2 separate regions of the Homo sapiens genome follow, and region 1 is linked to region 2. The links come from fine-mapping of genetic effects on gene expression. A gene starts in region 2. The other region holds a variant in brackets. All regions are shown on one strand. Distances are from middle to middle.

Evidence for each region. PIP is the estimated chance that this variant, and not a neighbour inherited with it, causes the effect.
Region 1: its variant is fine-mapped to the expression of PEX13 in whole blood (TOPMed, PIP above 0.99).

Annotation. Positions count from the first base shown.
Region 1 is chr2:61,040,312-61,057,110 of GRCh38, reverse strand. It overlaps PEX13 (peroxisomal biogenesis factor 13), which reads right to left. Exons shown (of 4, transcript NM_002618.4): 3 at 11,260-11,385; 4 at 5,121-8,639. The coding sequence ends at 8,341. Among named protein-coding and RNA genes, the nearest start is that of SANBR, 17 kb to the left of the region's middle. The variant G/C (reference allele first, on the strand shown) is at 8,475.
Region 2 is chr2:61,007,744-61,024,542 of GRCh38, reverse strand. It overlaps PEX13 (peroxisomal biogenesis factor 13), which reads right to left and starts at 6,823. Exons shown (of 4, transcript NM_002618.4): 1 at 6,692-6,823. The coding sequence starts at 6,783. PUS10 (pseudouridine synthase 10) reads left to right here and starts at 6,288. Exons shown (of 18, transcript NM_144709.4): 1 at 6,288-6,535; 2 at 12,638-12,778; 3 at 15,528-15,782. The coding sequence starts at 12,653. RefSeq lists enhancers at 6,367-6,416, 11,943-12,112.

The sequences.
Region 1 (16,799 bases), 33 kb before region 2:
TTTTATTTTTTTGTAGAGATGGGGTTTCATCACATTGCCCAGGCGGGTCTAGAACTCCTGAGCTGAAATTATCTGCCTGTCTTAGCCTCCCAAAGTTCTGGGATTACATGTGTGAGCCATTGCACCTGGCCCCGCTAATGCAGATTTAAATTAGCTATAAAAGAGAAAAGCTTTCGGCCGGGCACGGTGGTTCATGGCTGTAATCCCAGCACTTTGAGAGGCCGAGGTGGGTGGATCACAAGGTCAGGAGATTGAGACCATCCTGGCTAACACCGTGAAACTCTGTCTCTACTAAAAAATACAAAAAATTAGCCAGATGTGGTGGCGGGCGCCTGTAGTTCCAGCTACTCGGGAGGCTGAGGCAGGAGAATGGCGTGAACCTGGGAGGCGGAGTTTGTGGTGAGCCAAGATTGTGCCACTACACTCCAGCCTGGGCGACAGTGCGAGACTCGTCTCAAAAAAAAAAGAGAGAGAGAGAAAAAAAGAGAAAAGCTTTCGATAAAGACTAGCATAAAACTCACAGCAAATATCACGAGTTAATAGAGCAACTTTAGAATCTAAAGCAGAAATAAGATAAAAAAAAAACCTGCTACCACAGTTAGTGCTAAATATAGACTGACAACTTGGCCAAATCAACAAAAGAGAAGTATAAGCACTTTGGGAAGCTGAGGTGGGAAGATCATTTGAGGTCAGGAGTTCGAGACCAGCCTGGCCAACATGGTGAAACCCCATCTCTACTAAAAAAATACAAAACTTAGCCAGACATGGTGGCGCTCGCCTGTAGTCCCAGCTACTTGGGAGGCTGAAGCAGGAGAATCGCTTGAACCTGTGAGGCAGAGGTTGCAGTAAGCCAAGATCACACCACTGCACCCCAGCCTGGGAGACAGAGCGAGATTCTGTCTCAAAAAAAAGACAATGTTGTACTGGGAAAGAAACTGACACATACCAACAAAACAGAGAGCCCCCAGTTTCATGCTTATAGAACTTGGAATGTAATGAAATGAGATGATACGGATTATGTAGTAGATGGTGTTAGAAAAACTGACTGCAATCCTACTTGGCATGTTCTGCAGACATTCACTCGGAAAACCCAGAAGAATATAACTTGGCACCAAGGTCACTTAGGTTGGCAGAAAGATATAGCACAGTAAACAACTGGCATGTAGAGGAGGCATCCTCTTTAGGTAAGCCTCATGTGTGATAGGGAGCGCTATCTTGTAAAAAACCCTCAAGGCAGGTTCCAGGTCCCTACAACTAGGAACAAGCTTGGTTACCGGTTTCATATCTTACTCAGATAAATCAACATCTGTGTTTTGTCTTTTTACAGTTAAAACAAACAACAAAGGCTGCCTGGTAAAGAGTTGACTTTCCATATTTATCTTAACTTTGTAGGTTACCAAGGAAACAGTGCTAAAAAGAAAGTAAACCCAAGATCATTTTTCCCCAGAGCAAGAGAAGGGGTTTTGTTAACTCTTTCCTTTTAATGACTAGATGGAGAAAAAGTTGAATTCATACCTCATACTATATCCAAAAATTAATTCCAATTAAATTTAAGACCTAAATGTAAATGGTAAAACTATAAAACTGATAGAAGAACAAGACCTATGGCTGGGCGTGGTGGCTCACACCTGTAATCCCAGCACTTTGGGAGGCCGAGGTGGGCAGATCACCTGAGGTCAGGAGTTCGAGACCAGCCTGGCCAACATGGCGAAATCCTGTCTCTACTAAAAATACAAAAAAAATTAGCTAGGTGTGGTGGCATATGCCTGTAGTTCCAGGTACTCAGGAGGCTGAGGCAGGAGAATCGCTTGAACCCGGGAGGCGGAGGTTACAGTGAGCCAAGACTGTGCCACTGCACTCCAGCCTGGGCAACAAGAGGGAAACTCCATCTCAAAAACAAAACAAAACAAAATAAAGACATAAAAGATATAAAACATTGGGGGGATTTCTATTATATGAAAAACAACAAAGACAAGAATGAACAAATGGCAAGTTATTTCCAACATCTGAACTTGACAAGAAAATAGTATCTACATATAAAGAATTTCTTGGCTGGGAGCAGTGGCTCACACCTGTAATCCCACCACTTTGGGGGCAGAGAGGCAGGCAGATCTCCTGAGCTCACGAGTTCGAGACCAGCTTAGGCAACATGGAGAAACCCCATCTCTACAAAAAAACACAAAAATTAGCCAAGCGTGGTGGTACGCGCCTTTAGTCCCAGCAACTTGGGAGGCTGAGGTGGGAGGATGGTTTGAGCTCAGGAGGTAGAGGTTGCAGTGAGGTGAGATCACACCACTGCACTCCAGTCTGGGCGACAGAGCCAGACCTTGTGTCAAAAAAAAAAAAAAAAAAATATATATATATATATACACACACACACACACATATATACACATATATATACACACACACATATATATACACATATATATACACACACATATATATACACACACATGCACACACTGTATATACTATACTGTAATCAGCAAGAAAGAAAAACTTAATAGAAAAGAGACAAATTATAAGTACAGACCATCCACAGAATGGAAAATCGGAATGACTAAAAAGCAAATACTCACCTTCATCAGTAATCAGATAATGCAGATTAAGAAAAAATACAATTTTATACACATCAGATTAGCAAAAATCAGAAAATATCAAGTGCTACTGAAAATGAAGAGAAAATGAAACCCTCAGGTCTTGCTTGTGGAAAGGAAAACTGTGACAACCATTCCTGAGAACGATCCAGCATGACTTAAATTAAATATGCATATACCTCAAACTCCAGCCTTTCTACTCTAGGACATATATAGCAAAGAAATGAAAGGGCAGGTTTCCTGAAAGGGCATTCTTCCTTCATAGGAAGACATGTATAAGCTTGCAGAAGTGGAAATAGCTAGGAAAAATATAAGTATTTGTGACTAGAGGAAAAGATAAGCTTTGGCATATGAATACAATAGAATAATATGCACCGGTCAAAAGCACATTATAGGCCAGGCGTGGTGGCTCACGCTTGTAATTGCAGCACTTTGGGAGGCCGAGGCAGGTGGATCACGAGGTCAGGAGATTGAGGCCATCCTGGCTAAGACGGTGAAACCCCATCTCTACTAAAAATACAAAAAATTAGCCGGGCGTGGTGGTGGGCGCCTGTAGTCCCAGCTACTCGGGAGGCTGAGGCAGGAGAATGGTGTGAACCCGGGAGGCGGAGCTTGCAATGAGCTGAAATTGCATCACTGCACTCCAGCCTGGGTGACAGAGCGAGACGCTGTCTCAAAAAAAAAAAAAAAAAAGCACATTATATAAGTAACGTGGGTAGGTCTTAAAAACCTAATACTTCATGAAAGTTAGGAGAATAAAATTTATGCCACAATATCATTTATGTAAAAAATTTAAACATATAAATATTATATGGTTTTCAAGAAACTATATCCAAAACATGAGAGATGGCTTGGAAGGACAAATATTAAATAGGGAGCGTAGAGTATGAAATTGCAGGAGGGAGATGAATAAAAACTCTTAAGGTAAAACAGAACACAAGTATAATTCTATTTTTTGAGATGGAGTTTCACTCATCACCCAGGCTGGAGTGCAATGGCATGATCTTGGCTCACTGCAACCTCTGCCTCCCAGGTTTAAGTGATCCTCCTGCCTCAGCCTCCAGAGTAGCTGGGATTACAGGTGCTCGCCACTATGCCCGGCTAATTTTTGTATTTTTAGGAGAGATGGGGTTTCACCATGTTGGTCAGGCTGGTCTTGAACTTCTGACCTCAGGTGATCCACCCACCTCAGCCTCCCAAAGTGCTGGGGTTACAGGGTGAGCCACCACACCCACCTCTCTCTCTCTATATATATATACATATATATAAATTTTTTTTTTTTTGGAGATAGAGTCTCGCTGTGTTGCCCACACTGGAGTGCAGTGGTGCAATCTCGGCTCCCGGGTTCAAGCAATTCTCCTGCCTCAGCCTCCCGAGTAGCTGGGACTAGAGGTGTGTGCCACCATGCCTTGCTAATTTTTTGTATTTTTAGTAGAGACGGGATCACACCGTGTTGCCCAGGCTGGTCTTGAACTCCTGATCTCAGGTGATCCGCCTGCCTCGGCCTCCCAAAGTGCTAGGATTACAGGCGTGAGCCATCGCACCCGGCCCCTGTATTTTTTAAAAAGCATTTTCAGGCCTGGCGTGGTGGTTCATGACGGTAATCCCAGCACTTGGGGAGGCTGAGGCGGGTGGATCACCTGAGGTCAGAAGTTCAAGACCAGCCTGGCCAATGTGGTGAAACCCCGACTCTACTAAAAATACAAAAATTAGCTGGGCATGGTAGCGGGTGTCTGTAATCCCAGCTACTAGGTAAGCTGAAGCAGGAGAATCGCTTGAAACCAGGAGTTGGGGGTTGCAGTGAGCCAAGATCTCGCCATTGCACTCCAGCCTGGGTGACAAGAGCAAAACCCTGTCTCAAAAATAAAATTAAAATTAACATTAAAAAAAAGCACTTTCATGTGAGGCAGGTGTAGCAGCTATGCCTATTGTTATAATTTAGGAAACTGAAAAATAAATAATGGGACTTAAATCTTACAGTAAGCAGTGATGTCTAAACTAGAATCTAGATCCCCCAAAATCTAGGTATGAAGTGTTTTTATTTAACACACCTGTAGGTAATTCTATATAAATGTATTATTTTTCTTTTTTTTTTGTTTTTTTCTTTTTAGATGGAGTCTCGCTCTGTCGCACAGACTGGAGTGCAGTGGCGCGATCTCGGCTCACTGCAATCTCTGCCTCCCAGGTTCAAGCAATTCTCCTGCCTCAGCCTCCCAAGTAGCTGGGACTACAGGCACCCACCGCCACACCTGGCTAATTTTTGTATTTTTAGTAGAGACGGGGTTTCATCATATTGGTCAGGCTGGTCTCGAACTCCTGACCTTGTGATCCGCCCGCCTTGGCCTCCCAAAGTGCTGGGATTATAGGTGTGAGCCACAATGCCTGGCCTATTTTTCTTTAAATCACAAAGAAACAGAACAGATAGGTTTGCAGTAGGTAATATATACAATAATGTTAAAGAGATACTTCATATTAATTCTAATCCTGCAAAAGTGTTAACAATTTATCTTAAAAAGTCAATCAAGTTTAACATATTTTTATTTCTCCAGTAAAAGTAACTTCACAACCTACTAAAAATAAAAATTTAACTGCATTCAGTTTCTGTTCATTTTTCTATTAAAGAAAGCACAAGATAAAGGATAGCTGTGTTCAAGTAAATGTGTAATTATGACACAGACAGAATCAAGTACGTACATAAAATGTTAAAACATGAAAATGTATAGTTCTTTTACCATTTCCTTTCTGAACTCATAAAATATAATCAGAAAAATTAAAAGAAACATGTTTTATTATTGTAAACTTATATTTTATTTAATTAATAATGTTTTGGTGTGTTAGTAATTTCTGTAAAGTAGCACTCCTTAAATAAGTTCCTAAAAATAATATTGGAGCCTTGAACATTTAATCTCAGCTAAAAAAATTATTCTAAAACTGTCATGATAAAAAAGGTTACAAAATTTCTCTTTATTCTAGTCCTGAATTCCTTCTCCAGAATTTTAATACAAAACGAATTTTCAGGCACAAATAGTCACCAGATAATGCATACCGTAATTTAGCAGACTTAACCAAACAATAAACACCCCTACAAAAGTGTCACTATTTTATCACTTTGTGCTGTACTCTTCTCCCTATACATCTTTAATAGTGGTCACTTCTACTTTACTTCTAGCATTCAATTTAGACATCTCAACCCCAAATTTAATAATCTGTTTTATCAAACATTTGTTTTGAGAACAAAATTTCTATAAATTATCTGACAAATCAAAGCAGAACCTTTAATTGTAGAACACAAATGAAAAATAATATACAAGAAACCTTATCTCTTCAACTTCAAGGCTAATACCTGGGTGTTGGAAAACTGGCCAAAGATAAATAAATTTTACTATATTTATTTTTCTGCACTGGGTCAAGATTTCTATTATAAATGATATGTTACTTACGATACTGTCGTTTCAAAAAAGGGCTTTCCAAGAAGCCTTTAGTAAAGTTCTTCTATGCTGGGTATGTACTTGGTTCCTGTATGTTTTAATCTGAACTATTCGAGAATTACTTATTTGTTGAACATAGTCTATTAGAAAAAAATACTAAATCGCTGGGTGCGGTGGCTCACGCCTGTAATCCCAACACTTTGGGAGACCGAAGCGGGCTCATCACGAGGTCAGGAGATGGAGACCATCCTGGGTAACACGGTGAAACCCCGTCTCTACTAAAAATACAAAAAAAATTAGCCGGGCCTGGTGGCAGGCGCCTGTAGTCCCAGCTACTCGGGAGGCTGAGGCAGGAGAATGGCGTGAACCCGGGAGGCGGAGCTTGCAGTGAGCCGAGATCGCGCCACTGGACTCCAGCCTGGGCGACAGAGTGAGACTCCGTTTCAAAAAAAGACAAAAGAAAAAATACTAAATCACAATTTTTATCAAACAGTTCAAAGTTTTCAACAATATCTATAAATGTATTCTTATACACCTGTATTCCTGATAGTATTACTCTGTAGTATGTTCGTAGCCAAGTATATGAAGTTTCCAATTTTCTGGGGAAATATTCAGTGTACTGAAAGTTAACTGCATTTAAAATCATTATAAACCAAAAAACACGTCAAATAGCATTATCGTATTATTATTTTTTGTTTGTTTGTTTTGAGACAGAGTCTTGCTCTGTCCCCTAGGCTGGAGTGCAGTGGCATGATCTCAGCTCCCTGCAACCTCTGCCTCCCGGGTTCAAGTGATTCTCCTGCCTCAGCCTCCTGAGTAGCTGGGACTACAGGTGCACGCCACTGCACCCAGCTAATTTTCGTATTTTTAGTAGAGACAGGGTTTCACCGTGTTGGCCAGGCTGGTCTCAAACTCCTGACCGCAGGTGATCCGCCCGCCTTGGCCTCCCAAAGTGCTGAGATTAAAGGCATGAGGATTATCATATTCTAAATGGCAATAGAGCACTAAGACTATAAATAAGTCTCAGTAGTAAAAACTAAACCTAAAAGAAAAATGTATCCAATGTGACACATTTTCAATATTTACAGAGCATCCTAAATATGGAATTTAAAAAATTACACAAGGTAGAAGCAAACAATCTATGAAAATATTAAAAATTACTATTATAACTGATTATATCATTAAGTGCAAACTCAAAAGAACTCAAGTATTTGTTGTAGGAAAAGAAAGTATACCTTTCATATACTTCTGATTCACCCAGTATGAAAACTAGTCATATTTTAAAGAAATAAATAATTTTATTTTTTGAGATGGAGTTTCGCTTTTGTTGCCCAGGCTGAAGTGCAATGGCGAGATCTCCGGCTCAGCGTAACCTCCGCCTCCTGGGGTTCAAGCAATTCTCCTGCCTCAGCCTCCCGAGTAGCTGGGATTACAGGCATGTGCCACCACACCTAGCTAATTTTGTATTTTTCGTAAAGATGGGGTTTCTCCATGTTGGTCAGGGTGGTCTTGAACTCCCAACCTCAGGTGATCTGCCCGCCTCAGCCTCCCAAAGTGCTGGGATTACAGGCGTGAGCCACCATGCCTGGCTTAAAGAGATAAATAATTAAGGGATCCTTAGAAGAAATGGAACAGTTTGTAAGAAAGATAAATTTCAGACTTTTTGCTAGGAGGGAAAACTATTAGGGCTACATACTCTATAATTCTAGAACCATTTCCTTCAGAATGCTTCTGGGTGACCTTTTCAAATTAAATTTTTAAAAATACAGTAAAAGATAGCAGTGTCAGTTGTTTGTGGGTGAAAATATAAACCCAACACTGGATATAATACAGATCAGAAAATTTTATTATTGAGATTACTTAAGGTTGTAAAAAAAAAAAAAAATTTACCTTTTGCCTGTTCTCATACTGACATGTCACCACTCCATTTCTAAGGATTCCAAGTCAATTAATGCAGAACTTTTAAAAGTATTAATGATCTCTACTGTACCAAACTGTGCATGCTATAGTTCATCAATCTTACTCTTCCAATAAACCTAGAGATTTAAATAAGATAAAAATGACAGCAGTCTCCATAATCTTAAAATCTAGGTGAAACAAATGTCCTTATGGTCCAATAATGTGTATAATAAAATGTAACCAGGTCACCAGACCAACATACTAGTGTGTAACTTTAATAATTTCTAGCAGCAAAACACCTGAAATAGCCAATAACAAATGTTTTCATTGGATTGTACATTCATTTCTTTGTGAGAAATAATTTTAAAAAGTACTCTAAAGTATTGTTCAACTGCAGGCAAACATGAAAGATATCAAAGATCTTGCTTTTCTCCATCTTTCCCAATGGAATCAGGTGCAACTGGAACCTTATTAGTTTCAACAAAAACAGATTCAAAGGCAGCTTCCTGTTCATCCAAAGAATCAGCAACCGTGGCTCCTTTAGTTA[G/C]TGTTGGGTTGGTAAAAGATTGTTGCTGCTTGGAAACTTTACTTGATTCCACCGTTTTCCTACCTTTTCTTTTGCCAAGAATTTTGACATAATTCGCAGGTATAAGTCCTGTTGTTTGGCCATCAAGGCTAGCCAGAAGCCAACCACGCACTTTGGGTTGTTGTTCTGATGGAAAAAAAAGACAGTCTTGTAATTACAATATACTTTGGAGGTCCAACAGAATAGTAATGGTAAAATATCACATTCAGGAAAATCTGTTATGCTTACATAGTAGATAACAAATAGTACATGCATATATATTCAAAATCAAATGCTGAGTAGGCTTAACAGTTCTAGGGTCCATTCTTCTATTTTTATTTTATACTTACTAAATATTTCCTTCCACCTTGAAGAACATAAAGTTTATTATCAGTTGGTCCATTCATAGAGTAGGGAGATTTAGTTCTCTCAAAACTGAAAACTAACATCAATGTCTTTCATATTTTAAACTGGAGTCTAAAAAATGAATATCTTATTCCTTCTCAACTGGGTAAGTTAGGAATAAGTATAGAAAAGATATACCTTTAATGCACTCAGCTTTCTTAGCCTACTTTTGGCAAAAATATAAAATTCGTTTCATGTGATTGTAATAAACAATCCTGAAGACAGTAAATATTAATTTCAATCCAAGATGGGCAAAAAATTGAAGACCTTTGTTATTTCTAGCCATATGATAAATAAAGGCAATACTCTAAGCTTAAAGAAAGATTATTTAATGTACTCAATTTTCTATTGTATTTTCCTATTTTATCTATATCTTTAAAAAGCTGCTTAACTGTTACAATTTTAGTTCAACATTATAATTTAGGCACAATATAAGACTTTTTAATGTTTAATGCTCTATAATAACAGGAAAAAACAAATTTACCATGTCTACGACCGATTTTGTTCCAAAGGCCCAAACATACTTTTCTTGAGCAATGGAGGAAAGCCAAGAAGCAAGCTAGTGTTAAGAGGCACTATTCATTGAAGAATAATGAAATATAAAATTTTTCTGAAGTGTTATGTAACTGAAAGAAACCACATGACCTCTAATTAAAATTATCTGTGTTGTTCCTGTCTCTAACAACAAATCTTTAAAAAATCATTCGTTTGAAATCCAAAATAGTAAATTGCTATTTTCCCTATAAGAAAAATATGAATAGGCCCAGCGTGGTGGTACACATCTGTAATTCCAGCACCTTGGGAGGCCAAGTCGGGCGGATCACAAGGTCAGGAGTTCGAGACCAGCCTGACCAACATGGTGAACGCCTGTCTCTACTAAAAATACAAAAACTAGCTGGTCGTGGTGGCATGTGCCTGTAGTCCCAGCAACTCAGGAGGCTGAGGCAGGAGAATCACTTGAACCCGGGAGGCGGAGGTTGCAGTGAGCCAAGATCGTGCCACTGCACTCGAGCCTGAGCAACAGAGCTAGACTCTGTCTCAAAACAAAAAAAAAAGAAAGAAAAATACAAATAGAATACCTAAAAGTCTAGAGGTTTGTTTTTTTTTTCTTGAGACAAGGTTACACTACGTTGCCCAGGCTGGAGTGCAGTGGTGCTGTTCCACAGGTGTGATTACAATGTACTACAGCCTCAAACTCCTGGCCTCAAGTGATCCTTCTGCCTCAGCCCCTTGAGTAGGTGGGACTATAGGTGCACACACTGCACCTCGCTTAAGTCTAGGTTTTTTGTAAAAGGGATGAGGCAAAGATTTAGTAATCTCATCCAAAATTTTCAATTATTTACATAGTAATGATTTGAACATTGAAAGTATTTCTTCCCTGCAAAAAATGACTAAAACCAAAAAAAGGGTGAAGTTTCCATAAATAGATCCTTCCATGAAAAAACAGCCAGAGTTGTTAAAAGCACAAGGTCTCAAGTTAGACAAACCTAGATTCATAGTCCAGTTCTATTGCACCTTTGCTTTGTGATACTGGACAATTTACTTATTCTGAGTCTCAGTTTCTTCAAGGGTAAAACAATGACAGGATAATAATAGTACCACTTCACCGTATTATTGTAAGGCTTAAATGAAATATGTAAAATACAGTACCTTGTACATAGTAAGTACTCAATAAATAACATGTTATTGTTATTAGTACCTTTATCAACAAAACATCACTTTTTGCAATAAACTTGAATCCCCATAAATACACATATTTAAAAAAATCCATAAAAATCCTGATAATCATTACTCAGGAAGGGTGAAGGAAAAGGTCATTTTGCCTAGAGTCATTAAAAAGTATCAGTGACTTGGTCCAAAAATAAACCCGAGATGCGTATAAATCTCTTGCTGGGGTTCTATAATACTTCATGACACTATTTCCTAAAATACTTATGATGAAATTTCTGAGGTAAACACTGCTGAAGTAATAAAGAAGCAACACCAGTCCACAAGGACTAACAGCAATGCTTAGATGATGTTACATAATTCCTTTGCTTTATTAGATTTGTTATGTTTAGTTACTGACATCACGTTTTTGTGTGGGGATTAACAGTTTGAAATTCAAGTATTTTGAGTTTAGAAAAGCCTATATAAACAAAGCCTTTCCTTATCTCAGTGAAATAGTATTCGAATAACTCTGCTGGGGCATTTCTTCCTGACTCCTCCAGATTTGGAAGCTCTAAATTGACATGAAAAAGAAGTTCTAGTAACTATCTCTAAGTTAACTAACAATGAACAAGATCCTTTGTTGTAGTTTTTAATACTGCATTTATGAATATCAAAATTTACAGATAATTCCAACTTATTCATAATTTATTACCTTTGAGAGCTAAGTTCAGCATATCACCAGCCCGGAAAGAAATTTCTTCTTCAGATACGGCAGCAAAATCATATTCTGCTCTGGCAACTACATGGTCATCCTCACCACTTGCCCAGTTGATGCTGTCTATAAGCCAAATTAAAATTAGGTTAATAAAATTTACAAAAGAAAAATGCAGATATTTCACTGGCTATGGCTTGCAAACTGCATAAATTTGCCAAGAGAAAAGTCCTCCCCTCCCAAGTAAAAACTATAATGAATACTATGTTAAATCAACAATAGATCCACTAAAGATACCTATTATGAACTTTTTCCTTTCTTTAAGCTCCAACTTCCCGCTCTCTTACCGTGAGCCAGGGGTTGGCAAATTTTTTCTGAAAAGGGTCAGATAGTTAATATTTTAGACTTTGAAAGCCAAGAGGCAAAACAGGATATTGGGCAATTACTTTTATAAAAAGAGGAAACAAAATTTCCATAAATTTATTGACAAGATTAAAAATATAATAACCATGTTTCTTTTTGGTAATACAGGTCTATTTGGAAGTTACTTAGAAGAATGAAATATTTTGGGGGAAGGATATTTCACTTAATTGGAAATCAATTATAAATATTCACTTGCTAATTCTAATTTGTAATAAAATTTGAGGTACTGCATTTTTGAAAATGCCTTTTCACACAGATAGGTAATGTCAAATCCTAATATGAGTCTATGAGTATGTGGTTTTAATTGAGCATATTTATTAGTTGGGAGAGTAATAGGCCAGAATATAATTCTGTTAAATTCTTCTCTTGATATTTGCCTTTTACCATGTTATTACATTGCAGATTAATCACTTCCAAATGAAGATTAAGTGGAAGTTCCTCAATTGCATAGTTAAATGGATTTTGAAATATGGAAATTTCCTTTGTGCTTGCATGGAGGTCCAAAAAATGCTCTGGCATTGTATTAATAGCTTAAGCTTGGAAAATGTATCTGCTGCCAACTTGCGTGGGAATGGAGATACTGCTTGTGTTAACTTCTGACAGTCTGAGAGGTCTATAAAGCAGTGTGACATTACTTGTGAGTCAAACTGTATTAGGTGTTGTCAAAACTTTACTCCAGCATAAGTTTTGCATATAAGCACTGTTCTGCTTTGTGGTTTCCGTTTGAATTACTTAAGAATATAGGTCAGGCGTGGTGGTTCACACCTGTAATCTCAGCACTTTGGGAGGCCGAGGCGGGTGGATCTCCTGAGGTCGGGAGTTTGAGACCAGCCTGACCAACATGGAGAAACTCCATTACTACTAAAAATACAAAATTAGCCGGGCATGGTGGCGCATGCCTATAATCCCAGTACTTTGAGAGGCTGAGACAGGGGAAATTGCATGAGTCCAGCAGTTCAAGACCAACCTGGGCAACATAGGGAAACCTTGTTTCTACAAAAAAATAAACAAAATTAGGCAGATGTGGTGGCACGCGCCTATAGTCTCAGCTTGAATCGCTTGAACCTGGGAGGCAGAGGTTGCAGTGAGCCGAGACTGCACTACGCACTCCAGCCTGGGCAACTGAGTGAGGCCCTGTCTCAAAAAGAAAACAACAACAAAGAATATAACTAAGTCTGGGCTGGACATGGTGGTTCATGCCTGTAATCTCACTCAGCACTTTGGGACGCTAAGGCAGGATTGCTTGAGGCCAGGAGTTCAAGACCAGCCTGAGCAACACAGTGGAATCTCGTCTCCACAATAAATAAATAAATTGGCCAGGTGTGGTGGTGTGTACTTCTAGTACTAGCTACTTGGGAAGCTGAGGTGGGAGAATCATGTGAGCCCAAGAGTGTGAGGTTGCAGTGAGCTATGATCACGCTACTGCACTCCAGCCTGGCTGACAAAGCAAGACCCTGTCTCCAAAAAGAACTCAGAATTTAACTAAGTCTGCAGTAAAAGGTGATTTCCAAAGCTGAATGGGTTTAATAACAATAGCTGAAAAGGAGTTCTGTTCAGAAAAATTTCATTCTTGGCCTCAATCTCAAAAAAAATAAAATAAAACTTAAACCTTGTTCTGCCATTGAATTGCCATGCGGTAGGGCAAGTCGGGATCTTCAGCTTCTGTATCTGACAAAAATTCACAAAACTGACAATGATTATGTCACAAGAGTGAATAAACTTTACCTTGACACTACTAGTTCAATAACACATGATAAATTCAAATATTTTCTGCAATGTGGCTGCTGATAATACAATGAATAACCATAAACAAAAAAACTGTATTTTCAAAACCTTTGTAACTTTTGTCCAACTAGGCCTTTTCCTGCTCCACCTAGAATTTTCACCATTATCAGGTGCAACACATCTTAGCAGATTCAGGTTGTACGGAATCAGTGTTTTCACCTTCTTTGAAAATGTTCTTGTCTGTAGTTGAACCATGACTATTCATAGAGGCTAATTCTTCAGTCATTTCCAATTCACCATTGATTTCTCAAATAAACAACTAAGCAGTACTGTCTTTTTTTTGAAAATTTGTTTTTTTTTTTTTTTTTTTTAGTAGAGACAGGGTTTCACCACGTTAGCCAGGATGGTCTCCATCTCCTGACCTCATGATCCGCCCGCCTCGGCCTACCAAAGTGCCAGGATTACAGGCATGAGCCACCGAACCCAGCCTGTCTTTGTTTTATGCTACTTTAACAGAATACTACAGACTGGGTAATTTGTAAACAATGGAAGTTTATTTGCTCACAGTTCTGGGGGCTAGGAAATCCGAGATCAAGGGGCATTTAGTAAGGGCCTTCTTGTTGTGTCATAACATGGCAGGAGGCATCACATGGCAAAAGAGTGCATGCGAGAGAGTAAGAGGGCCAAACTAGCTTGTATAACAAACTCACTCTCGAGATAATGAACTCACTCCCATGATGACAACATTTAGCCAACAGATTTAGCAAGTATTAATATCCATTGGGTCATGATGAGCCAAGGAAAAACATTCAAATCATTTGTCTTATTTTAAGTTGGCCATGTTGTTCAAAATGCCATCAACTCTTCAAGGAACTGTTCTCACTGAGAAGCTAATAATCTTAAACAAGTTTACTTTCTCTGGACATATTTTTTTTGGCTGTTGCAATGACCATGAGTAAACAGGTTTCCTTGCTTGGGTAACATATGAACCTCTCAGGAACTTATTTTGGTTGCAGCCTCATTTTATTTTATTTTTATTTTGATGCGGAAATTCTGCTGTGATGAGAATTCCATTTTAAATTTTCTAATTTTTTTGACTGTTGATTTTCTGTGATGAGTGCTCAATCTGGTAATGCTGATATGTAGTATAGCCATTTAACATAGCTATAGTGTCATTGTATAATAAATACAGTTTTTTTTACTATCTAATTCAATAACGAAATAATTCATACTATACTGTGCCTTGAAAATATGACACTCAAAGTACACTTTTTTCTTGTGTGTCATATATGAATTCATAATTTCAAAAAAAACCCACTGTAGTATAACAATGTATATATTACTCATCATGCTATCAAGTTATAACTAAGTTACTGAAATTTGTAGTGGGCAGAGCAAAAGTGAAGCCATCGGAATTTCACATATAGTCTCTGTGCAAACTATTCAATTCCACTGTTACAGTGGAAAAGCAGCCATAACAATATGTATGGAAATAAGTGTGGCTGTGCTCCAATACAACTTTATTAATGAAATTTGAATTCTATATAATTTTCACATCACAGATTATTTCAATTTTTAAAACATTCTTTTAATTTCCCAGCAACTGAAAAGTATAAAAACCATTTTTAGCTTGTGAGCTGTACAAAAATAGGAGCAGGCCAGATTTGGCCCACAAGCCACGGTTTGCCAACCCCTGCTCTAAGAGCTAAAGTAATAGGACCTCAATTTTGCTTCTCCTCAAAAATCTCTTTGTATCATTACCGATTTCCTCTCCTTTTGACTCAGATAAAAAACCGTCCTTCCTTTTTACCTGCCAGGTTCCGTAAGATCACACCCTCTCTTACTTCCTATAGTAGCTTCTTCATCATTTAACTCCTATCTTTCCCTTATTTATAACTGCTCCTTCTCTACTGACTCCTTTCTTTTAGCCTAAAAACATTCTCAGATCTCCTCACTTCTGAAAAGACAAAGCAAAACAAAAAACTGACAATCTCCCACAACAACTTGATCACTCAATTTGGCCATTCTTTTCCTCCCTCCTTCCATTCACTGCTAATCTTTTCTTTTTCCACATCTTCTGACTTTATTTACCCTTTATCCTCTGCTACAGTTTCTGTCTTCTCCACTTTACCAAAACTACTTGCTGGAGCTTGATGACTTCCAGTTGCCAGATCTAATAATCTTTTCTCAGTTCTTGATCTTATTGTAGAACCTTACATCATTCATCATCCTTCCACTCTTCCTCCATAATGTAGCAATAATATGGTTCTACTTCTGTTCTTCCTGATTTCCATCTTAGTCTGTCTTCTTTTCTATCTTTCTATGTATGATAGTAGTATCATTCACTTATATTAGTTCTTCCATTTATTTATTTTGAGACGGGGTCTTGCTGTGTCACCCAAACTGGAGTACAGTGGTACAATCTCAGCTCACTTCAGGCTCAACCTCCAAGGCTCAAACCACCCTCCCATCTCAGCCTCCCAAGTAACTGGGACTATAGGCATGCACCACCACACCCGGATACTTTTTGTAACTGTTGTAGAGACAGGTTTTCCCTATGCCGCACAGGCTGGCCTTAAACTTCTGGGCTCAAGCGATTTGCCAGGCTTAAGCGATCTGCAGGCCTCATCCTCCCAGTGTTGGGATTACAGGGGTGAGTAATCCCAATCTGACTCTATCTTAGGACCCATGTCACTGCCATGCTGAGCCAAGCCACCATCACTTCTCACTTGAATTAAGGTAATGGCTGCTTGACTCTCCTGATTGGTCTCTTCTGCCCTAGCTCTACCTAAAAACCATTCTTAGTAAAAAGGTGTATATATATATACCTTTTTTATATATATACACATATATATACTTTTTTATATATATACACATATATTATATATATACATATATACTTATATATACTATACTTTAATATATAGGTATATATATATATGTATATACCTATATATATATTTACATTTAATACTTTAAGTTCTAGGGTACGTGTGCACAGTGTGCCGGTTTGTTACAGAGGTATATATGTGTCATGTTGGTTTGCTGCACCCATCAACTCGTCGTTTACATTAGGTATTTCTCCTAATGCTACCCATCTCCAAGCCCCTCCACCCCCTGACAGGCCCCAGTGTGTGATGCTCCCTGCCCTGTATCCATGTGTTCTCATTGTTCAACTCCCACCTATGAGTGAGAACATGCGGTGTTTGGTTTTCTGTCCTTATGATAGTTTGCTGGGAATGATGGTTTCCAGCTTCATCCACGTCCCTGCAAAGGACATGAACTCATCTTTTTTTATGGCTGCATAGTATTTCATGGTGTATATGTGCCACATTTTCTTAATCCAGTCTATCATTGATGGACATGTGGGTTGGTTCCAAGTCTTTGCTATT
Region 2 (16,799 bases):
CCACTGCACCCGGCCTCAATGACTGGTTTAATACCAGATTAGACACAGTGAAAGAAAAATATCAGTGAACTAGGAAAGAGATGGGAAGAAAATACCCAGAATGAAGCATAAGAAACAGAAGGATAAATACAGAAAAGAGAGTAAGATACAGGGAGTATAGTGACATATGGGGTATATATGCAAGTTGAGTTAAAGGAGTAAAGTGACAATAGATAGAAACCATATTTAAAGAAATAATGGCTTAAAGTTTTCTGGAATTAATAAGAGGCATCAAAGTCAGATTCAAGTATCCCTGTGAATTCCACCCAGGATAATACAAAGAAGACCACACTGAGGCCTAACAAAGCAAACTGCTGAAAACTAAAACAGAGAAAAAATATTGAAAGCAACCAGATCAGGGGTGGGGTAAGATTCTTTTTAAAGGAGCAAAGAATAAGACAGAGATGGTGAGGGAGTGGTGGCTCATGCCTGTAATCCCAGCACTTTGGGAGACCTAGGTGGGAAGATCACTTGAGCCCAGGAATTTAAGATCGGCCTTGGCAACATGGTAAAAACCCATCTCTACAAAAAATACAAAAATTAGCTGGGCGTTGTGGCACTTACCTGTGGTCCCAGCCACTCGGGAGGCTGAGGTGGGAGGACTGCTTGAGCCCTGGGAGATGGAAGCTGCAGTGAGGTGTGATTGCGTCACCACACTCCAGCCTGGTGACAGAGTGAAACTTATTTCAAAACAAACAAACAAACAAACAAACAAAACAAAAGACAGAGATGGCCAAAAAGTCAAGAGAGCTGACAAAAAAAAAAAAAAAAGAAGTCAGGAAAAACTTAGGTCCCTTGATGACAATGTTGAGAAGGCAGATCTCTAGACTTCTTGCTAACTAAACAATAAATGTCTTAATAGTCCAAATCACAGTGAGTCAGATAATGTTACTTATAGCAGACACTAGTCCCGATATAATGCTTGACAGAAGAAGAGACAGTAAAGACTAGTGTTCAAACAAAACTTAAAATAATATTTAAAGGTATAATTGATGAGCATTTTCCTGAATTAAAAAAAGAAATGAATCCTCAGACTGAATACTGTGGATACTAAGCAGGAAGAAAAAAAAAATATGTGTGTGTGTGTGTGTGTGTGTGTGTCTGTATATTCCTACCTGGTTACAATATAATAAAGCTAGAGGACCAAACGTATCAAGGCTACTAAGGAGAAGGCAGTCTGCCTATAAAGAAATGAATTAGGCCAGGTGAGATGGCTCATGCCTGTAATCCCAGCATTTTGGGAGGCTGAGGTGAGAGGATTGCTTGAGCCCAGGAGTTCGAGACCAGCCTGGGAAACAAGGCAAAACTCCATCTCTACTAAAAATATAAAAATTAGTTGGGCATGGTGGCATGCACCTGTAGTCCCAGCTACTCAGGAGGCTGAGGCAGGAGGACCACTTAATCCCAGGATGTAGAAGCTGCAGTGAGCCATGACTGCACCACTGCACTCCAGCCCGGGTGGCAGAGTGAGACACTGTCTGAAAAAAAAAAGGAAATTAGACTCAACAGAAAAACCTATCTAGCTATAAAACTTTGATACAAAACCAGAATAGTACAAAGAAAAAAAATTCAATTTCACCTAGGAACATGTATGCAACAGTCTCACAATATTAGAATAGAGTTCTTTTTCTTTTTGGAGACAGGGTCTTGCTATGTCACCCAGGCTGGAGTGCAGTGGTATGATGACAGCTCACTGCAGCCTTGAACTCCTGGACTCAAAGGGATCCTCCCACCTCAGCCTCCCTAGTGGCTAGGACTACAGGCACACACCACTACACCTGGCCAATTTTAAAATTTTTTATAGACAGAGTCTTGTTATGTTGCTCAGACTAGTCTTGAACTTCTGGCCTCAAGCAATCCTCCTGCCCTGGCCTTCCAAAATGCTAGGATTACAAATGTGAACCACTCCAACTGGTTTAGAATAGAATTTGGAATTGCATATCAGAAAAAAATCAAGACTAATCAAAGTTCATTGAGAAATGCAAGGATGGTTCAACAATAGAAGGTTGATACAATAAACATTTTCTCTAATCTTGTCTTCTCACTTTATTTCATCAATTTGATCTTCAATTACTGATATCCTTTTTTCCACTTGATTGAATCAGCTATTGAAGCTTGTGCGTGCATCACGAAGTTCTTGTGCCATGGTTTTCAGCTCCATCAGGTCATTTAAGGTCTTCTCTACACTGTTTATTCTAGTAAGCCATTCATCTAACCTTTTTTCAAGGTTTTTAGCTTCTTTGCGACGGGTTAGAACATGCTCCTTTAGCTCGGAGAAGTTTGTTATTGCCGACCTTCTGAAGCCTACTTCTGTCAACTCGTCAAAGTCATTCTCTGTCCAGCTTTGTTCCGTTGCTGGCAAGGAGCTGCGATCCTTTGGAGGAGATGAGGTGCTCTGATTTTTAGAATTTTCAGCTTTTCTGCTCTGGTTTCTCCCCATCTTTGTGGTTTTATCTACCTTTGGTCTTTGATGTTGGTAACCTACAAATGGGGTTTTGGTGTGGATGTCCTTTTTGTTGATGTTGAAGCTATTCCTTTCTGTCTACTAGTTTTCCTTCTAATGGTCACGTCCCTCAGCTGCAGGTCTGTTGGAGTTTGCTGGAGGTCCACTGCAGACCCTGTTTGCCTGGGTATCACCAGCAGAGGCTACAGAACAGCAAATATTGCTGCCTGATCCTTCCTCTGGAAGCTTTGTCCCAGAGGGACACCTGCCTGTTTGAGGTGTCTGTCAGCCCCTACTGGGAGGTGTTTCCCAGTCAGGCTACACGGGGGTCAGGGACCCACTTGAGGAGGCCGTCTGTCCGTTCTCAGAGCTCAAACACCATGCTGGGAGAACCACTGCTCTCTTCAGAGCTATCAGACAGGGACGTTTAAGTCCACAGAAGTTTCTGCTGCCTTTTGCTCAGCTATGCCCTGCCCACAGAGCTGAAGTCTATGGAGGCAGTAGGCCTTGCTGAGCTGCAGTGGGCTCCTCCCAGTTCAAGCTTCCTGGGCGCTCTGTTTACCTACTCAAGCCTCAGCAATGGTGGATTCCCCTCCCCCTGCCAGGCTGCTGCCTCGCAGATTGATCTCAGACTGCTGTGCTAGCACTGAGCAAGGCTCCATGGGTATAGGATCCGTCAAGCCAGGCATGGGAGAGAATCTCCTGGTCTGCTTGTTGCTAAGACTGTGGAAAAAGCCCACTATTTGGGCAGAAGTGTCCCATTTTTCCAGGTATAGTCTGTCACGGCATCCCTTGGTTAGGAAAGGGAAATCCCCCAATCCCTTGCGCTTCCTGGGTGAGGTGATGCCCCGCCTCGATTTGGCTCACCCTCCATGGGGTGCGACCAGTGTTCAACCAGTCCCAGTGAGATGAACCAGGTACCTCAGTTGGAAACACAGAAATCACCCGTCCTGTGCGTCAATCACGCTGGGAGCTGCAGACCAGAGCTGTTCCTATTCCCACATTTTCATACTAAAGCGAAAATACATACAATGGTCTCAACAGATGCAGAAAAGCCATTCATAAAATTTAATATTTCTTCACAATAAAAATCTGAGCAAGGTAAGGGCTGGGCATAGTGACTCACACCTGTAATCTCAGCACTTTGGGAGGCCTAGGTGGGCAGATCACCTGAGGTCAGGAGTTCAAGACCAGCCTGGCCAACATAGTGAAACCCCATCTCTATTAAAAATACAAAAATTAGCTGGGCGGAGTGGCACGCGCCTGTAGTCTCAACTGTCCGGGAGACTGAGGCAGGAGAATCACTTGAACCCAGGAGGTAGAGGTTGCCATGAGCCAAGATTGCGTCTCTGCACTCCAGCCTGGGAGACACAGTGAGACTCCATCTCAAACAAAAATAAAAATGAAATAAAAATAAAATAAAATAAATCTGAGCAAGGTAGAGAGAGAGAATTTTGACAAGATATCTATCAAAAACAAAAAGCAAACTTCACATTTAACAGTAAAACTTCAGAAGCACTCCAGTGGAAGTCAGGACCAATACAAGGATGCTAGCTTATCTGTAAATGACAGAACTGGCTACACAAAACTAAAGAGAATTTCAACCAAACCATCAGAACTAATTAAGAGTTTGAGATTATGCTGTACATAATATTTACATTAAAAAAAATCAATAGCATTCTGCCATACCAGTTAATAACCAACTGGAAAATGTAAAAGGAAAAAAGAAAGCCCATTTGCAACTACTACAGCAAAAATAATCTAGGAATAAAAAATAAAATATGGAAAAAAATTTCATGGAGGTAATTATAAGTTTTTTGTTGTTGTTGTTGTTTGAGATGGAGTCTCCCTCTGTTGCCCAGGCTGCAGTGCAGTGGCGTGATCTTGGCTCACTGCAAGCTCCGCCTCGTGGGTTCACGCCATTCTCCTGCCTCAGCCTCCTGATTAGCTGGGACTACAGGTGCCCGCCACCGCACCCAGCTAATGTTTTTTTGTATTTTTAGTAGAGACGGGGTTTCTCCGAGTTAGCCAGGATGGTCTCGATCTCCTGACCTCGTGATCTGCCCGCCCAGTCTCCCAAAGTGGATAATTATAAGATATTTAAGGCAAAAAGATAAATTCCCACCAATTGTAGCTTATACAATATTCATGGAATAAAAACTTACTTGATCCATAAATTCAGCTCAGTTCCAATAAAAATCCCAGTAAGTCTTTTTATAAAGGACTAAGTGTAAAGAGCGCAATTACAAAGAACAGCAATGTGTGGAAACTCTTGACATACTACATATCAAGACTTATAAAATTCTGTAATTAAGATAGTGTGGTGCTAGTAGAAAGTCAGAAAATGCCCAAAACAGAACTACATATTTAGGAAACCTTGATATGACATAGATGGCATTAAAAACTAAGAATAGACTACTCAATAAATGGTGCTGCGACAATTAGTTACCTATATGGAAAAAAAAATTAGATTTTTATACAAAGTCAGTTCCATGTGGATTAAATGCAAATGAAAAAACCGGAAGATTTAAAAGAAAACATACAGAAAAACTGTCCTGATCTAGGTAGACAGGATTTCTTAACCAAGACAAAAAGCATAAACAATAAAATATGACAATTTTGGCTGTATTAAAATCAAAAACATCTGTACAAAAAATTGAACATAAATATAAAGAGGAGAAGCCACACAGTGAAAAATATTAGCAAAATGTAGTAACAAAAAAGGATTAGTTTAACAATACTCTTACAAATTGGTAAGCAAAGATAAAGCCAATAGAAAATTGGGCAACAGAAAAAACAAAAACAGATACAAAAAATAATATATAAATAGTAACATGTAATTAGATATAAAATATATATTATTGTTACATTGTTAAGTTTTAGATATAAAATGCATATAAATAGCACAAACCTAAGTACTAAAATATAAAAACATTACTGGGTATGCGAAACACCAAATAAGGACAATAGTCACCACTATAAAGAAGAATGGGAGAGTTTAGCCGTCTTTTATTTTGAAAAATTCGACATAAGTCTGGCAAATGTTAACACTGTTTAAAGTTGAGTAGTGAATATATAGGTATTATCTTACTCTCTACTGGTCTCTGTGTTTAAAATATTTCACGATAAAGTGGGAAAATGGTTAATTTTACATAAAAAGAACTTTAACAGATGCAAAAAATAAAACCTCTCTCATTCGACAAGCAGCCTAAATGGGGAAAAAAGAACCCACTCAAAAAAAAGGTAGCAGATAATGTCACCGTGGCTTACCAGCCTAATCAAACTTATTACTTGTTATGTATATATCCTTATTAAACTAAGTCGTTACTGTGTTAAAGCATTTTAGTGTTTAAATAAAAGATTTCAGAATACAGCAGAAATACATTCCAATATGTTGGGGTTTTTACGCTTAGGAAAACCTACAATAGTAGGTGATTTGACATTTGAATCACACCTATCTGAATTAAGATGTCCAGCACTACCAAACAAAAGCCACACGAGGCCACGAAACACTCCCAACTCTGCATGTTTTAGCCTTTTTAAAGTCCTAGAAACCAACTGATACTGATTAAAAACCAAACAAAAAAAAAATACAGGCCTCAGAAAAATACACTATTTTGCACACAAAGTCCATCCATAGGCCTCAGATCTAGAACTCCTGCTTTAAAGTTGCTTCTCCAATCTCGATCCGAAACACTGGCTGAGTTATGCTGGAAAAGAATGCAAAGTGTACGGGGCTTGAGTTCCTGTTGCGTAAAACCTTTCCGGCTTTCAGCAACTTCTCGAGAGGTTAACACCTTTAAGGAGAGACTTTGCTCCCTGTCGATGCCGTGGCTGGACAAATGCCGCTCTCAACTGCTACAGACCAAAGTCTACGCTTTAAAGATAGAGAAGCCATTCTGTCAAAGTGAAAACAGAAGCGGTAGGTAGGAAGCCGCCCCCCTTTCTTTCAAGCACAGAGACCCAGAGAGACGCCCAGGAGCTCCCGAAAAAAACGTTGCTGATTAGAGCTGCCGGGTCAGAAACAGCTGTGAGACACTAAAGTCCCCACTGGTAAGCGCCCCAGCTCCACCTCGGCCCCTATCCCCAAGGTTGGGTATTGGTTAAAGGGGGGAAGGGAATACCTCCACTAACAACCGCTACAACCGCCTCCTGCCAAGTCCCCGCTCGGGCCCACTAAACTCACAGCCTGAAGAATCCCACACTCACTGGAAAGTGGGGCCCGGTCCTGGTCCCGGTCCGGCTCCCGGAATTCGGCGGGTCTCCCAGGGTTTGGGGGGAGGTGGCGGCTGGGACGCCATCTCCTCCGCCTCCTCTCGGCTCCCGCTCCTACCCCTGACTGTCCAGGCCCGCGTAGACCAGCACCTGGAGCGTAAGACACAACGGGCAGAACACCGAGCCGTCCACCCCGCCCACCCTTGCAGTCAGGACAAGGCTTGAGTTACTTTGCCAGCTGAATCCATACAGCGGGAGGATGCCACTAATTTGTAGGAAGAAACACGCTCTTTGTATTTGCCCCAGAAAGAGCTGCCTTTCTAAACCTCAGGGTAAAGGCTCATCGATATTTCTGGTAGCGGCTACAACTCCCTAGACGTCGGAGTCCCACCGAGGCTTTTCTGGGAGTGGACCAGTCGGGCTGGGAGTAAAGCCGCACGCACTCCTTCGCTCGTGGGGGAGGTAGGGTGAGGTGGCAAACCAGGCAGTTTTTCGGATTTCCTCTACAAACAAGAAGGGAGAAGCTCACTTAGTCCTAGCGAGAGCGGGCTGGTACTTTTGTTCTAAAACGCACGTTTCCTCGGGGAACAGAATTGCTAGACGCAATAGGTGCGTTGTCTTTAGTCTTCCCTCTTCCCTTCGAGGGCCGGAAGGGGTTAAATCTCAGGCTCCGGCGTCTGGGGAGAAGGTGAGGCGGGTAGGTAAGAGGTGAAGGAGTGCAGACTGGGTGCAAAAGAGGTGTGGCGGGAGAGAGTTCGTTTCTCTCCTGCTGGAGCGGCTTTGTTAGCAAAGGAGGGGTGAGTGGGAAGTTTGTTGCACCTGACCGAAGGGGGAAGGGCTTGCTTGGCGAAAACTGAGGCTTGAGGTTAGATCTCGGGATGAACTTTTCAAGAGTCCACAGTAGATTCCAGAGCTGAATGTTTCAGAAGCCCAGTGAAGTGTGATCACCTCTTTCTCCGTAAATCCACACCCCCAGCCCCACGCCGCGTTACGAATGACACCCTTCGGTAGGGAAATGAGTTTTAAAAGATCTTAGGATATGAGACTCAGTCTGGTCATTTCGCTAGTTTTTCTTATACCCTGCCCCTTTTCTCGTTTTCGATGACTGGTTTTTGTAATCGTCCAAGAGGTGAAAATAAAGTCCTTCCTCTCCTCCAGTAAGCCAGAGACTGGGCTAGTTATCCTTGATTTGGGGAGGAGGGATTCAGTCCTCCTAGGGAGCCTGACACATGAAAGGCGGCTTTGTAGCAACTTGTTACAGAGTTATTTCTATAAAACAAACACATAAACGAAAAGCAAACATCTTGAGGGTAACCAACACTGGAAAACTTACATTGTGGAATGCCTTTCTCAGGGCTTGCTTTCAAACATAATAAATCTAATATGGACAACCGATTTCTAATATCTTATGAAATCCTGGCATTTAATTATCTCACGATGAAAAAACCAAATTTAAGACGTAACGTATTTTCTCCTTTTAATGTTAACATTCTTGAGAAGTTGATAAATTGTTGGTAGGTGAAAATGATGTTGAGAGGTTTGTAAATTCATAGCTCGTTTATTAACACACATTCAAAAGAGGTCTTTTTTGGGGTCTATTTTTAGACCTCTTCAAATTACTCAGGACTGGAAGTTTTGTAATTCTCATCAATCAGGTTTGGGAACTTCTCAGAGCCAGGAGATTGTAATGTGTCATTTATTTACTTTGCATGATACCTTTGTTCTTGTGAACTTACTGGAAAAATAAACATTGTCTTCTAGCCATGGAAAATAAAATAAATTTTAATATAGCTATTTAAGTATCGAGGGAAATCTTCATTAAGTGTCCTTTTAAAGTGCTTATTGATTTATTGGAAGAGGGTGTATTTCTTCTGTCTCTTTTTGAGTTAAATGTTACTTCTGAATTAAGTAAAATTCTTGACCTTAACTAATGGAGAAAAAATAACTTAGAGTAACAGGTGAAACAGAAACAGTTTCTCTGTGTATGTAGTCAGAGATGCACTGTAAATGCTTATATTCGCCCCTCACAGCATCCGATCTCTTCTCTGCATCAAAGTAGATTAAATGGGCTGGGAAAAGGGATCCAGATCACTAGTAAATAGTAATGACTTGACCTTGACCACACAGATCTTATTTATTTATTTATTGAGATGGAGTCTCGCTCTGTTGCCCAGACTGGAGTACAGTGGCACGATTTTGGCTCTCTGCAACCTCTGCCTCCTGGGTTCGGGCGATTCTCCTGCCTCAGCCTCCTGAGTAGCTGGGACTACAGGTGCGTGCCACCACGCATGGCTAATTTTTTGTATTTTTAGTAGAGATGGGATTTCATCGTGTTAGCCAGGATGGTCTCGATCTCCTGACCTCATGATCCTCCTGCCTCAGCCTCCCAAAGTCCTGGGCTTACTGCAACCTCCACCTACTGGGTTCAAGTGATTCTCCTGCCTCAACCTCCCGAGTAGCAGGGATTACAGGTGCACACCTCCACACGTGGCTAATTTTTGTATTTTAGTAGAGATGGAGTTTTACCATGTTGGCCAGGCTGGTCTTGAACTCCAGACCTCAAGTGATAATGCCTGCCTCGGCCTCCCAAAGTGCTGGGATTACAGGCGTGAGCCACTGGGCCTGGCCAGATCTTCATTATTTAGAGGCTGTTTTCCACATATTCTGTTTTCTTTCTTGAAAATACCCTGGAGCCCAAATTTACTTAGGCAACCCTAACTATGCGTTTCTCAATTCTGGTGTTTCAAAGTTGTCACCTTGTCAGCTTGTATGGTGTGTCCATACAAGCCTGATTTTCTTCCCTCTGCTGACTCACATATTCCCCTGAATTAGAATTCAGCCAGAGGCAATCTGTTTTTAGTAGTCCTGGCTGCTGAACTGATTTTTATGGTGAAGAGTTCTATGTAACTATATGCCTGTCTTCCTCATTATTTTGTGCAAGAATCTTGGTAAGTGGCCCCAAACATTTAGCAACTTGCAAGTAAGTAGGAAGTTTTAGAGGTTTGGAAAACGCAGACTAGAAGAATCACGTCTTTATACTAAGCTGTTGGGAGGAGCTTCACCCTTCCACAAATTTTAAGCAAGTTCATTTGAATTATGAAACTGCACAAATTAAAAGATGCCACTGTCGTTCATCTTTATGACCACAGTTACAGCATGCCATAAGATTGCCATGCAATGATTATTTTCTAAAATATGGGCAGTTGATCATTTTAAGGTAATATGAACTGTTTCACTAATTAGAAGATCTTGTTTTGCTGAACAAATTAGGTTGTTTGAATTTTTAGTACCCCCTCCTTCCCGGTAACAGGAGACAGATTTGCCTTCATTCTCTATATAGTATTTTTTTGTGAGTTTATTTAAATTGCAAAAATTGGCAATTTAAGCAAACAGTTGCTCTCAAATATTTTGTACTTAATTTGTTTTTGTTGAAGGTTTTTTTGTTTGTTTGTTTGCTTGTTTGTTTGAGATGGAATTTCGCTCTTATTGCCCAGGCTGGAGTGAAGTGGCATGATCTCGGCTCACTGCACCCTCCGCCTCCTGGGGTTCAAGTGATTCTCTTGTCTCAGCCTCCTGAGTGGCTGGGATTATAGGCACACGCCAACACACCTGGCTAATAGTTTTTTGTATTTTTAGTAGAGATAGGGTTTTACCGTGTTGGCCAGGCTGGTCTCAAACTCCTGTTGTCAGGTGATCCGCCCGCCTCGGCTTCCCAAAGTGCTGGGATTACAGGTGTGAGCCACTGCGCCTGACCTTTTGTTGGAGGTTTTACTCATGAAAGGGGCAGATTTTTATTTTGTTAACAGGTGGTTGCCATTTAGTCATATAATCAAAGTAAAGTTGATGTCTTTAGACCTGCTGATCAACTTTGTTGTTGTTGTTGTTGTTGTTGTTTGTTTGTATTTTTGAGACAGCATCTCACTCTGTTGCCCAGGCTGGAGTGCAGGCGCCAGCCACCACACCCAACTAATTTTTGTATTTTTAGTAGAGACAAGGTTTCACCATGTTGGTCAGGCTGGTCTTGAACTCCTGACCTCAAGTGATCTGCCCACCTCAGCCTCCCAAAGTGCTGGGATTACAGATGTGAGCCACTGCACCCGGCCTCAATTTGTTTTAAATAGTTGGCCGCTAAGCTATCATTAAGGGTAGTCCAGTATTATATAAGGTAGACTGATCAGATTTTTTTGTCTAGTCTGAATGCCAAGGCCCTTAGCCACCTAGAGGTTCTCTGAAAATCACTGACATGAGGCAAATTGATTAATGGGAGAAAAGGCATACACGTTTATGTAATGTGTATACACAGGAGCCTTCAGAATGAAGACATAATGATAACAGGGGAAATTGTCCATTTTTATGCTTAGGTTCATCAAAGTATGGATGGCACATAGAAATATGATTGAACAAAAAGGTAATCAACTCAGTGGGGAAACCCAGCAAGCCTGTCTAGGTTCTTGGCCTCTCAGAGCATGCATTCCTTCCTTCTGGGTGTGGGGCAGGACCTGCCATGGAATGGGGAGTCTTATGACCTACAGTCAGACAAGAGAGGTTAGATCATTTCTTCATCTTTTTTTTTTTTTTTTCTGTTTCTTTTTAGAGACAAGGTCTTGCTCTGTCACCCAGGTTGGAGTACAGTGGCATGATCTTGATTCACTACAACCTCTACCTCTTGGGTTCAAGCGATCCTCCCACCTCGGTCTTCTGAGTAGCTGGGAATACAGGTGTGTACCACCATGCCCAGCTAATTTTTCAATTTTTTTGTAGAGACAGGGTCTTGTGGGTTGTTGCCCAGGCTGATCTCAAACTCCTGGCCTCAAGTGAACCTCCTACTTCGGCCCCACAACCACAAAGTGGTGAGACTATAGATGTGAGCCACTGCACCTTGCCTAGTTTTTCATGGTCAGTTTTTACTCAGAAAGGTGGAGGGAAAATTTGAGTAATAGGCATATGTGTGTGTGTGTATATATATATATATATATATTTTTTTTTTTTTTTTTTTTTTTTTTTTTTTTTTGAGACGGAGTTTCTCCCTTGTTGCCCAGGCTGGAGTGCAATGGCGCAATCTCGGCTCACTGCAACCTCCACCTCCCAGGTTCAAGTGATTCTCCTGCCTCAGCCTCCCAAGTAGCCGGGATTACAGTTGCTTGCCACCATGCCCGGCAAATTTTTTTTTTTTTTTGTATTTTTAGTAGAGACAAGGTTTCACCATGTTAGCTAGGCTGGTCTCAAACTCCTGACCCCAGGTGATCCACCCTCGGCCTCCCAAAATGCTGGGATTACAGGCATGAGTCACTGTGCCTGACCAAATTTGAGTAATATTTTTAGATTTTATGGCTGGCTTTGGGGAAAGGGGGTTCTGGTTTCTATGACTCACTTTGAGGAAGAGAGACTGTAGTTTTTCTATGGCTAGTCTGGGGAAGAATGAGACAGACAGGAGGGCAGAAGGTCAGAGAAAAACTTTTGCTTCTGAGGCTGCTGCTGAGGCCTTCATTTTGGGGTATGGCTTTCTGAGCCCCACTACCAGCAAACTCATTTTTAATTTCTTACAGGAAAAGTTTAATGAATTAACTTTGTACAATACTGAATGGTACAAAACAAAAAGCAAAATTTCACCCTGTACCTCTGTTTTCATTACCCTCCTCAGAAGCAACCATTCTTGATTATTTTTATTTCTTTTGATCAACTTAGTTATATTGATGTATTTTATCATAATCCAAAATGCTACACTAAATTCCTTAGCAATTAGAAACCTTTACCGGATCCATCTTATGAACTTCCTTAAAATTTGTATTTTATAATATGTGTGTAATGAAAGGGGCTTGGTTAGAGAGTACACAATAGTGTTTTTCAAATGAAAGCTAGTTTTTATCCCTAAACATGATGACTTGTCTGTGACAGTAAAACGCAGAAGCTGCTCATTAGTTTTACTTCTTTTCTTTCTAGTTATAATTATTCAATATGTTCCCACTGACTGAGGAAAACAAGCATGTGGCCCAGTTGTTGCTCAATACTGGTACTTGTCCAAGATGTATCTTCAGATTCTGTGGTGTGGATTTTCATGCACCTTACAAACTTCCATACAAGGTATTTTCTTTTCTTTTTTTTTTTTTTTCAAATTAAGAGAAGGTTCTCTGTATTTTACAATGAATGCTTGTACTTTTGAGGGCAGGTATCTATTCATAACTCTTTTTTAAATTAAAAAACTATAATAAAATGAGTGATATTCATAATTTTGGAATAGTCTCAGAAATGTAAGTTCCTTCTTAAGTGATTATATCTAGCTTTCTAACATTTAGTGTAATGGGATCTTTGTGGAGGAACTCCCTGGTGCATTTGAACACTTGTATAGATGTTTCCTAAAGGATATCTAAACAGAATATCACAAAATATTGCTTCCTCCCAGGAGGGGCTAATATTCCTTACATGTCCTACTATGTGGAAGCATTGTGGGTATGGTTGCCTTTTTCTGTTTTTCCCATTTTCTGTATTACCAGTTGTGTTTATAAATAGGTATTTGGAATCCTCTAGAAATAAATGCTTATCATCATTATTACTGTTATTAATGACAAAAGTAATATACAGAGATCTTTGACATTTATGGTAATATACAGAGAGCTTTGAGGTTTAATATAACACTTTTTTGCATAAGATATGTAACATCTTTATGAAATGTTTGATTCTAAAAGTGATATTCTTTTTAGAAGCAGATAGTAATACATATGTAAATATATACATTATAAACAGTATGTATACAACATATACACACACAGTTTCTTATAATTTAAAAAATTGTCCAGGAGTTAGTAGTATCAGTTATTTTTAAAATGTTATTAGTTGTTTCTATTATTTTGGCAATAATAATACACAATATTCAATTATCATTACTATATGTCAAGGTCTTATATAATTCTCATAATAACTGATTAGGTAAGTACATACTATGATTGTCTCTATTTTCAGATGAAGAAACTGAGATACAGAGAGGTTAAGCAACCTGCCCAAAGTTACACAGCTATTAAGTGAGCAAGCTAGGATTTGAACAGTCTGACTGAATTCAAAACCTAGGATTTGGAACTAGAAGACATGGATTTGAATCCCAGTTCCACCACTTTCCAGCTTCAGTTTACTCCTCTGTAAATGGGAATGATGATAATACCCACCTCACAGGACTTTAAGGGACAATACCTAATAAAGTACGTGGAAACACTTTGAAAACCAGAAATTGGCTGGGTGCGGTGGCTCACGCCTGTAATCCTAGCACTTTGGGAGGCCGAGGCGGGTGGATCACGAGGTCAGGGGTTCAAGACCAGCCTGGCCAAGATGATGAAACCCTGTCTCTACTAAAAATACAAATATTAGCTGGGCGCCATGGCAGGTGCCTGTGATCCCAGCTACTTGGGAGGCTGAGGCAGGAGAATTGCTTGAACCCAGGGGTGGGGGGTGCGGAGGTTGCAGTGAGCCGAGATCATGCCACTGCACTCTAGCCTGGGCAACAGTGTGAGACTCCGTCTGAAAATTAAAAAAACAAAAACAAAAAACCAGAAATGGTACTTGTGCTATGATGATTTAAATATGTGTATATTCATTTATACACAATATGACTGTAAAGTAATAAGACTGGTTTTGTGTAACCCTGCTTACACATTTTTTTCAGACACACTGTAACCTATTATCTATTATATGTTATTAGGTTTTAAATTTATATTATATTAAGAGACTGAGTGTTATCAACTTTCGTTTGTTTCATTTTATGTAAGGCAATATACAAGAATATTTGGACAGCTTTTTGGAAATGTTCATAAATTTTGATCTGTTCTATTCATGTAACTATGTATGTACATGCACATCTGTATATGCACTATGTTATATCTATATTATAGATCTTAGGTAACAACAAACATATTTGTGTGAGTCAAAATGTACCTGTATATGTATGTATGTATGTATATTTCTCTGTTAAAGCAGGAGAGCTAATTTCTCAATAAAATGGATTTAAATTTGTTTGAGTGAAAGATTTTTTCCCTTTACAGTCAGTAAATTGTCATCTGAATGAATTTGAAAAATATACTTTTTCAACAATGGCATAATAAAACATGTCTAAACAAAACAGAGGAAAATCCTCTGAGTATTTTGATGAGAGGAATATCTGAATGAGAGAAATATGAGAATGGTTTCAAAGAAATGCAGGTTTTTAAATTCTAATACAAGACAAATTAGGCAAACTGGAATATAGTAGAGCATGGCTTTCAATTAATATATGGAAATGGTTTGTAATCATATGCTAACTTTCAGCATTGTCAGCATTTGTGTACCTTTCTTAGTAAATTTTCTCCAAATTATTTTTACTTATTAGACTACCCTAATGATCAGATTTCATATTAAATAAATATTGTACTTGTGAGCTTTCAGTGATTGTGAGGTTATTAAATAACCTAGCAAGGATGGAAATTCAGTTTGTACTTTTTATATGTTAATCATTAGAACTAAAGTTTGTTTTTACTGAAATTAGCAATGAATGACTCTCACAACAGAACTACAAATTAATAAATTTGTATTGGAGCCTTTCTCCTCAGATTTATGACTTTTGCTTCACTGATATATGGAACTCTTTTGAAAAAGTATTCACATATATAATAGAGATAGGTAATTCTCTTTTAAATTCCATAAAAGCCAATGCTGGCTAATAACTGGATTGCTTCAGAATTGATATGTCAACATTGTAAAATTTGTGATATGTCCTAATTTTCACTCATGTTTTCTTGTTTCATCTTACCTAGAAAGCCTTAAGGACATTGTCAGTGGGTCATTACTTTTTCTTTCATTAACTTTCCAGGAGTTGCTCAATGAACTACAGAAATTTCTGGAAACTGAAAAAGATGAATTAATTTTGGAAGTTATGAACCCACCTCCCAAGAAAATTCGACTGCAAGAACTGGAAGATAGTATTGATAATCTAAGTCAAAATGGAGAGGGAAGGATCTCTGTTAGTCATGTTGGAAGCACTGCTTCCAAGAACTCAAATTTAAATGTATGTAATGTATGCCTAGGAATTCTTCAAGAATTCTGTGAGAAAGATTTCATTAAAAAGGTAAATAACCTGTTTTTCATTATAGGTGCAATTATGTAGAGATTTTCAGTCTTAAAACCAAGAATTCTTTTTTCTTTCCTTTTTTCAAGACAAGACAATTCTTTTTTGGGTCTCATTCTGTTGCCTAGGCTGAAGTGCAGTGGTACAATCACAGCTGACTGCAGCCTCCAACTCCTGGGGCTCAAGCAATCCTCCTACATCAGCCTTCTGAGTAGCTAGGACTACAGGCATGCACCACCATGCCCACCTAATTTTTTTTCTTTTTTTTTGAGATGGAGTTTTGCTCTTGTTGTCCAGGCTGTAGTGCAATGGTGTGATCTTGGCTCATCGCAGCCTCCGCCTCCCAGGTTCAAGCAATTGTCCTGCCTCAGCCTCATGCCTGGCTAATTTTGTATTTTTAGTAGAGACAGGGTTTCTCCATGTTGGTCAGGTTGGTCTCGAACTCCCGATCTCAGATGATTCGCCTGCCTTGGCCTCCCAAAGTGCTGGGATTACAGACATGAGCCACTGTGCCCAGCCCTAATTTTTTAATCTTTTTGTAGAGGCAGGATCTCCCTATGTTACTGTGCTGGTCTTGAACTCCTGGCCTCAAGTCATCCTCCTGCCTTGGCCTCCAAAGTACTGGGATTAGAGGTGTGAGTCACTGTACCCGGCCAAGGCCAAGAATTCTTTTTTTTTTTTTTGGAGACAGAGTCTCGCTCTGTTGCCCAGGCCGGAGCACAGTGGCGCAATCTCTGCTCACTGTAAGCTCCGCCTCCCAGGTTCATGCCATTCTCCTACCTCAGCCTCCCGAGTAGCTGGGACTACAGGCACCCGCCACCCAGCTAATTTTCTGTATTTTCAGTAGAGACGGGGTTTCACCGTGTTAGCCAGGATGGTCTTAATCTCTTGACCTCGTGATCCGCCCGCCTTGGCCCAAAGTGCTGGGATTACAGGCGTGAGCCACCGTGCCCGGCCAAATTCTTTTTTTTTTCTGTTTTTTTTTTTTTTTGAGACAGAGTTTGGCTCTTGTCACCC